3 separate regions of the Homo sapiens genome follow, and all the other regions are linked to region 2. Evidence: fine-mapped expression QTL. A gene starts in region 2. Each other region holds a variant in brackets. All regions are shown on one strand. Distances are from middle to middle. Region 1 overlaps VPS54 (VPS54 subunit of GARP complex). Region 2 holds the start of VPS54 (VPS54 subunit of GARP complex). Region 3 overlaps VPS54 (VPS54 subunit of GARP complex).

What was found. PIP is the estimated chance that this variant, and not a neighbour inherited with it, causes the effect. A credible set is the group of variants that fine-mapping cannot tell apart.
Region 1: its variant is the best candidate, but not a certain one, in a credible set for the expression of VPS54 in blood mononuclear cells (TOPMed, PIP 0.88).
Region 3: its variant is the best candidate, but not a certain one, in a credible set for the expression of VPS54 in whole blood (TOPMed, PIP 0.68).

The regions. Positions count from the first base shown.
Region 1 is chr2:63,975,585-63,978,435 of GRCh38, reverse strand. All of the region lies in intron 3 of VPS54 (VPS54 subunit of GARP complex), which reads left to right. Among named protein-coding and RNA genes, the nearest start is that of VPS54, 42 kb to the left of the region's middle. The variant T/C (reference allele first, on the strand shown) is at 1,260.
Region 2 is chr2:64,018,334-64,020,833 of GRCh38, reverse strand. VPS54 (VPS54 subunit of GARP complex) reads left to right here and starts at 1,406. Exons shown (of 23, transcript NM_016516.3): 1 at 1,406-1,896. RefSeq lists a silencer at 1,283-1,992 and an enhancer at 2,153-2,222.
Region 3 is chr2:63,985,852-63,988,702 of GRCh38, reverse strand. The region is part of intron 1 of VPS54 (VPS54 subunit of GARP complex); the gene reads left to right. Among named protein-coding and RNA genes, the nearest start is that of VPS54, 32 kb to the left of the region's middle. The variant G/A (reference allele first, on the strand shown) is at 1,458.

The sequences.
Region 1 (2,851 bases), 43 kb after region 2:
TCTAGGATAAGGTGAGGCAGGTGAGCAAAATTTGAGAGGCACTGAAATCTGAGAGTGGGTACCTCCTTAAATATTGTACCGTATGCTTCTTGCTTGCTTCATCCTACTGCCAGCCTTCATGGAGTAACTGGAACTCTCATATACCGCTGGTGGGAATTTAAAGTGCTACAACCCCTTTGGAAAAAAGTTTGGCAGTTTCTTAAAAAGCTAAACATACTTCTGATCTGTCATGTAAGGAGCTTGGAAGTTGTCACTTCCGTTCTCACAACAAAAAACCTTAGCAAACTGAAAATCAACAACTGAGAAGCACCTGTGAAGGTCGCAGCCCAGGGGCACAGGCTCACTAAGACTGAAACCTAATCATAAGATCATAGAATGCTTCCCCTCCCTTCACGCATTACCACCACATCAGTGGGGTGCTTGAATAATGAGAATACAACGGAAAGGACTACATGTCTCAGACCTTATTTAAGAGGTCTGCAGGGAAACCTGAAGATAGTAGGAGAGGTGAAAAACAAGGACACAAGTGGAAATTTTAGCCTCTGACACCTGCAGCTATAGCAATCAGTAAATAAAGCCTAACTCTTAGCCAGATAAACAAAACTTCATACTAAAGGCCTATTTACCTCAGTTCTTTTTAACTTTGGTATATCATATCTGGCTTTCAGCAAAACATTACAGTGCATACCAGACAGAAAACACTGTTTAAACAGACAGATCAAGTATCAGAATCAGACTCAGATGCGGTTGTGATGTTGGAATGATCAAACTGGGAACTCAAAGTAACTATGTTTAATATACTAAGGGCTGTAGTGGAAAACATGGACAACATGCAAGAACAGATGTAAGCAGAGAGATGGAAACTAAGAATCAAAAGGAAATGCTACAAATCAAAGATAGTATAACAGAAATGAAGAATGCTTTTGATGAGTTCATTAATAGACTTGAAGTGGCAGGGGAAGAAATCAGTGAGCTTAAAGAAATGCTGATACAAACTTATAAAAATGTGTGGGATGCAAGGGAAGTAAGGCTTCAAGGAAGTCTTGCTTAAATAAGCACTGAAGGCTTCATTTAATGCTTAAGAAGAAAATTTAAAATTAATAATCCAAGCTTCTACCTTAGGAAGTTATCAAAAGAAGAGCAAATTTAATCCAAATTAAGCAGAAGAAAAGCAGTAATAAAAATTAGAGCAGAAATCAGGGAAATTGACAATAGCAAATCAGTAGAGAAAATCAACAAAAGCAAAAGCTGGTTCTTTG[T/C]GATCAATAAAACTGATAAACATTTAGCTAGATTAAGAAAAAAGAGAAGGCTGGGCATGGTGGCTCATGCCTGTAATCCCAGCACTTTGGGAGGCTGAGGTAGGTGGATCACCTGAGGCCAGGAGTTCGAGACCAGCCTGGCCAACATGATGAAACCCCATCTCTACTAAAAGTACAAAAATTAGCTGGGTATGGTGGTAGGCACCTGTCATCCCAGCTACTTGGGAGGCTGAGGCAAGAGAATCACGTGAACCTGGGAGGCGGAGGTTGCAGTGAGCTGAGATCGTGCCATTGCACTCCAGCCTGGGTGACAGAGCAAGACTCTGTCTCAAAAAAAAAAAAAAAAAAAAAGAGAAGATATAAGCTACTAGTATCAAAAATGAAAGAGGGGCTGTTTCTACTGATCCTGCAGACATTAAAAGGATAATAAGAGAATATTGTGAACAGTTCTATGCCCAGAAATTTGATAGCCTAGGTGAAATGGACCAATTTATTTTGAAAGACACAATTTACCAAAGCTTACACAACAAGAAATAAATATTCTGAATAGGCCTATATTTATTAAAGAAATTGAATCAATCATACTGCTCAAAGCAGAAATCACCAGGCCCAGATGGGTTCCTTGGTGAATTCTACCAAACATTTCAGTAGGAAATTATACCAATTATTTATAATCTATTTCAGGAAATAGAAGCTAAGGACATACTTACTAATGCATTTGGTGAGGCTGTCATGAAGCTAATACTAAAATCAGACAAAAGCATTATAAGGAAAGAAAACTTTAGACCTCTTGTGTGTTTTTTTGTTTTTTGTTTTTTTTTTTTTTGAGACAAGGTCACGCTCTGTTGCCCAGGCTGGAGTGCGGTGGCAGGATCACAGCTCACTGCAGCCTCAACCTCCCGGCTCGAGCAATCCTCCCATCTCAGCAACCCCCAAGTAGCTGGGACTGCAGGCGAGCACCACCACAACACCACGCCTGGCTAATTTTTGCATATTTTGTAGTGACGGGGTTTTGCCATGTTGTCCAGGCTGGTCTCAAACTCCTCAATTCAAGCAGTCTGCCCGTGTTGGCTATTCATTATTTTTAAAAAAAGAACTCTTAGCAAACTAGGAACAGGAAGAAATTTCCTTAACTTGATAAAGAATGTACCGGGCGTGTCGGCTCACGCCTGTAATCCCAGCACTTCGGCAGGATGCTTGAGGCCAGGACTTGAGACCAGCCTGGCCAACGTGGTGAAACTCATCTCTACTAAAAACACAAAATTTAGCTGGGCATGGTGGCGCATGCCTGTAATCCCAGCTATGTAATTGCCAATGGGTTCACCTTGCCTGCTGCTGGCTAGGCAGCTGATTTATTGAGACAGGGGAATTTCAATAGAGAATGAATAATCCACACAGAGCTGGCTGTGTGGGAGACTAGAGTTTTGTTATTACTCAAATCAGTCTCCCCGAGCATTCGAGGATCAGAGTTTTTAAGGACAACTTGGTGGGTAAGGGGAATCCAGTGAGCCGGCAGTGCTGATTGGTCAGGTCAGCGATGATATCATAGGGAGAAGCCATCTCCATGTGCTGAGTCAGTTCCTGGGTGGGGC
Region 2 (2,500 bases):
AAGTACTCTTTTAGCTATTCTGGAATATTAAATACATTGTTATTAACTGTGGTCATCGTGCTGTGCAATAGATCACTAAAATTTATTCCTCCTACCTGAAACTTTATACCCTTTGACTCACATTTCCCCTTTCCTCATCACCCTTTACCCCCCAGTCTTTGGTAACCACCATTCTACTCTGCTTCTATGTAAACTCATCTGGTTTTATAAGTGATCAGGGATTTAAGAGGACTTCACTCTTTTACAGTTAAATTTATTTCATATTGGGGAATGATTTTCTCACTTTGTTTCTTACATAATTTTAGAGGATTGAACTTAGAAAAATATAATGTAAGAGTTTTCTCTCAACTATTTTTGATGCTTCCTTACTTTTTGTCCTCTTTCCCCAACTTTAGCTCTTTGGTGGGGAAAATATTATTTCATAAAAGTTATGTTTGCAGTTTTCAAAGTGACTTCTTAGAAGTGAAACTTGGATCAACATTTTTTTCAACCCCCCAACTATAAGAGTTACATTTTCACTTTTGATTTGTTAAAACATACTATGTCTTATAAATGCTTGAAATTTATTTTTAGGCAAGAATTTCAACATTGAATAAAATCTTCCCAAAATTAAGTCACAAGCACTCAAAGGATTGAGGATCTTTTTCTTCCTAAAATATATGTGTGTGTGTGTGTGTGTGTGTGTCTTTATATTTATATACTAAGACCTTCCCTTTCTTGTGGACTGTGTTTTATTGGTTTAAAGTTGCAAGTCCTGTGAAACCAGGCTGAAGTCAGAATTAGAAGGTATTAATTATCATACACACTCCAAGTATCTCAGTCAAGTAACAGGAATAACTGATTACAGTGTCTGGGAGGAAGGCCTGGAACTTGGGGAAGACTTGGAGGGGAGGACTGGATGGGGAAAAGGCCTCAATAGAGAGAACTGGGTTGTTGCGGAGGGGTGACCTTTAACCTTTGGAAGGGCATTTACTAGGGAACAGCTGAAAAGCATTTACTTCGAGGGGGTGGGGGAGAGGAGGAATCTCGTGGAAGTATTTGCTTTAATAGGTCCCGGGTGATTTAGGGATGTTTCGAGTCGGTTGGTCTTGGGGGTGGCGAGGGCTACGCTGGAGGGGTCGCGTCCCAGTCCCGGGGAAGGCGGCAGGAGGTTTTCTGGGTGTTCCTGAAAACTGGGAGTTGGGGGGAAGGGTGGTGGGGAAAGTGGAATTCAGCGTGGATTTGTCTGCGTGTAGGACTATTAGAGGAGGCGCAGGGGAGCCACGCGGTGTATTCCCCGCCCCGAGAGAACTCTGGCTGCGCCTGCGACGGGCACGCCGGCCTGCGCCAAGGCCGCTTTCCCCAGGCGGCGGGCGCTCCCCCCGGCCCGGGCCGCGGCCCTCCCGCCCCGGCGGAGCCGCGCGGTGGATTGTGGGCTGGGGGCTGCGGCGGCCTCCGGCGCTGTCTCCCCGCACCCGACCGGGCCGAGCCGGCTGGGCCGGCGGGGTGAGGGAAAGCAGTGGAGTCGGGAGCAGAAGCGCTAGAGGCAGTGGTCGTGGCGCGGCGGCGGCGGCTCCCCTGGAGGCCGGGGATGTGGGAGAGGCGGTGGCAGCAGCGGCGGAGGCGGCGCTGCGGACCCGGGGGAAACTGCTGGCTGACAGGACACCCGGGAGAGACGTGAGGGAGCCGCCGCTGCCACCTCTCACCCCTGAGTGAAGCTGGGCTCGAGAGGGCGGCCCTGTGCTCCCCGGGCCGACTGGCCAGCGGGCGCGGGGCGGGGGCGGGAACCCGGGCTCGGGCCCGGCCGGGCGCCGGGCGGCGGCGGCCGTGGAGCAGCAGCCTCGGTGCGACGTGGAGGGCTGGAGGCGGCGGCGATGCACTAGGCCTCGCTCAGGGCGGCTGCCCCGGGACCCGCAGGTAGGTGTGCCCCGCGGCCCCCCGCGCGTCTCAGCCCACTCTCACCCCGACCTACAGCGGAGAGAGGGACCGAGACCCCACCCCCTCGGCTCTCCTCCCCAGCCCCAAACGGACCGAGTTTCGGTCACAGCTGACCGGCACTGAAGCTTCCATGCTCCTCTCCGCCACTTCCTTTTTTTTTTTTTTTTTTCCTTTTCACTCTCCCTCCGGGATCGGGGCTGGCAGCTGTGTTCCCTGCCTCCTGTCAGCGACCGCAAACGCCGCTCTTGCCCCTCTCTTATCTTTCCGGGATCCCAGCTCTGGAACTTCCATCACCCCCTTAGACGCTGCCCCCAAACTTTCCTTTTCTTTTTCCAGCCAGGCCCTTAGTCCTATTGGATTCTACTGGAATCGTTAAAACATTTGTTTGTTTTTCTCTCCGGGGAAGGCTAACCCAAAGAGTTACTCAGTATTTTGCATTTTGGCAATGTAGCTTGAAATAATTTGTGCAATAATTTTCTTCAGTTCTGCCTCCTTCCATCTCTGCATAGACAGAAAGGGCAGGCCCTCTCTGCCGTTTCTGCTCTCCCGTCGTTGACTTGGGAACTTTGGCTTGCCAATTATA
Region 3 (2,851 bases), 32 kb after region 2:
TTTTACGAAGATGATGGGATTAAGAGATTAAAATAAAGACAGGCATAGGAAATCATAAGATTGTTGATTGGGGAAGTGATAAATGTCCGTGAAATCTTCACGATTTATGTTCAGAGATTGCAGTAAAGACAGGCGTAAGAAATTATAAAAGTATTAATTTGGAGAACTAACAAATGTCCATGAAATTTTCACAATTTATGTTCTTCTGCCATGGCTTCAGCCAGTCCCTCGGTTCGGGGTCCCTGACTTCCCGCAACACATATCTGTGACTATTGATGCAAAAAATCTTCAATAAAAATACTAGCAAACCAAATTCAACAACAATTAAAAATATTATTCATCATGACCAAGTGGGATTTATTTCAGGAATGTAGATAGTTCAACATGTGCAAAGGTGATACATCATATCAAGAGAATGAAGGAGAAAAAACATATCAATTGATTCTTAAAAAGCATGTCATAAAATTAAACATCCTTTCATAATAAAAACCCTCAAAACTGGGTATAGAAGGAACATTCCTCAAAACAGTAAAAGCCATGTATGACAGACCCATAGCTGTTATCACACTGAATGAGGAAAAACTGAAAGCCCTTCTTCTAAGATCTGAAACACAGCAAGGATGCCCACTTTCACTACAGTTATTCAACGTAGTATTGGAAGTCCTAGCCGGAGCAGTCAGACAGGAGAAAGAAAGAAAGCATCCAAATTGGAAAGGAAGGAGTCAAATTATCCTTGTTTGTAGATTATATGATCTTATGTTTGGATAAACCTAAAGAATTCATCAAAAAATGATTAGAAGTGATAGATTCAGTAAAGTTGCAGGATACAAAATCAGCATACAAAAATCAGTATCATTTACATATGCCAACACTGAACAATGTGAAAAAGAAATCAAGAAAGTAACAACAGCTAGATTTACAACAGCTAGAAATAAAATACCTGGGAGTTAACCAAAAAAGTGAAAAGTCTCTACAGTGAAAGCTATAAAATGTTGGTTCAAGAAATTGAAGGCAAACACACACACAAAGGAAAGATATTCTGTGTTCATGGATTGGAAGAATCAATATTGTTAAAATGTCCATACTAACCAAAGCAATCTACAGATTCAGTGTATTCCCTATCAAAATACCAATTAAATTCTTCAGAGAAATAGAAAAAACAATCTTGAAATTTATATAGAACCACAAAAGACTTGGAATAAACAAAGCTATCCTATGCAAAAAAAAGAAAATTGGAAGAACCGCATGATGTGATTTCAAATTATACAACGTATTGGCATATAACCAGACACATAGAACAGTGGAACCAAGTAGAGAACCCAGAAATAAATCCATTCATCTACAGTGATCTCATTCTTAACAAAGGACAATCTTGGGGAAAAGGACAGTCTCTTCAATAAATTGTGCTGGGAAAACTAGATATCCATGGATAGAACAATGAAACTGGACCCTATTTC[G/A]CCATATACAAAAATAAAATGGATGCAAGACTTAAATCTAAGACTTCAAACTATGAAACAACGAAAAGAAAGCCTTGGGGAAAATGTCCAGGTCATTGAAGTGAGCAAGGATTTCTTGAATAAATACCCCACAAGCACAGGCAACCAAAGCAAAAATGAACAAATGGAATCACATCAAGTTACAAAGCTTCTGCACAGCAAAGGAAACAACAAAGTGAGGAGACATCCCACAGAATGGGAGGAAAATATTTGCAAACTACCCATCTGACAAGGGATTAATAACAAGAATATATAGGGAGCTCAAACAACCTTATAGATAAAAATCCAATATGTTGATTAAAAGATGGGCAAAATATCTGAATAGATATTACTCAAGAGAAAACATGCAAATGGCACATGGGTGTATTTATCATCAGAGGAATGCAAATCAGAAGTACAATGAGCTATCTCACCCCAGTTAAAATGGCATTTATCCAAAAGACAGGCATTAAGAAGTGCTTGCGAAGATGTGGAGAATAGGGAACCCTCATACGGTTAGTGGTAATGTAAATTAGTACAATCACCGTGGAGAGCAGTTTGGAGGTCCCTCGAAAAACTGAAAACGGAGCTGTATGATCCAGCATTCCCACTCCTAAGAATATACAATAAATGAAATCAGTATATTGAAGAGATATCCATATTTATTGCAGCAGTATTCACAATAGCCTCGATTTGGAACAGCTGAAATGTCCATCAACAGACGAATGAGTAAAGAAAATGTGGTACATATACACAATAGAGAACTATTCAGCCATAGAAAAGGATGAGATCTTGTCATTTGCAACAGATGGATGGAAGTGGAGGTCACTATGTAAGCCAGGCACAGAATGAGAAACTTCACATGTTCTCCCTTATTTGTGGGAGCTAAAAATGAAAATAATTGAAACTCGAGTGATGGTTACCAGAGGCCTGGAAGGATAAGTGTGGGGGAAGGGGGCCTGGAGGAGAAGGTAGTGGTGGTTAATAGGTACAGAAAAATAGAAAGAATGAATAAGACCTAGTATTTGCTTGCCTAACAGGGTGATTAGAGTAAAAAGTCATTTTTATTGTACATTTTAAAATAACTAAAAGTATAATTTGATAGTAACACAAAGGATAAATACCTACTGTGTACTCACAAAAATTGAAAAAGTTTCAAAAATGTTTTTTGCTGTTTTATTTGATTAATGAGAAAGTTAACATGGTCAATCTTAAATGTAGAATTGTCTTTATCACTTAGTACAGTGTTTCTGTGTTGTACAGTGTTTCTTACCCTTTAGATAAGTATGTGTATTATCCTTTAGATAAAGATACATGTTTATCTCTCTTAAATATGTGTAAACTTTTATACAGAAACAACCATACACTTAATGTGT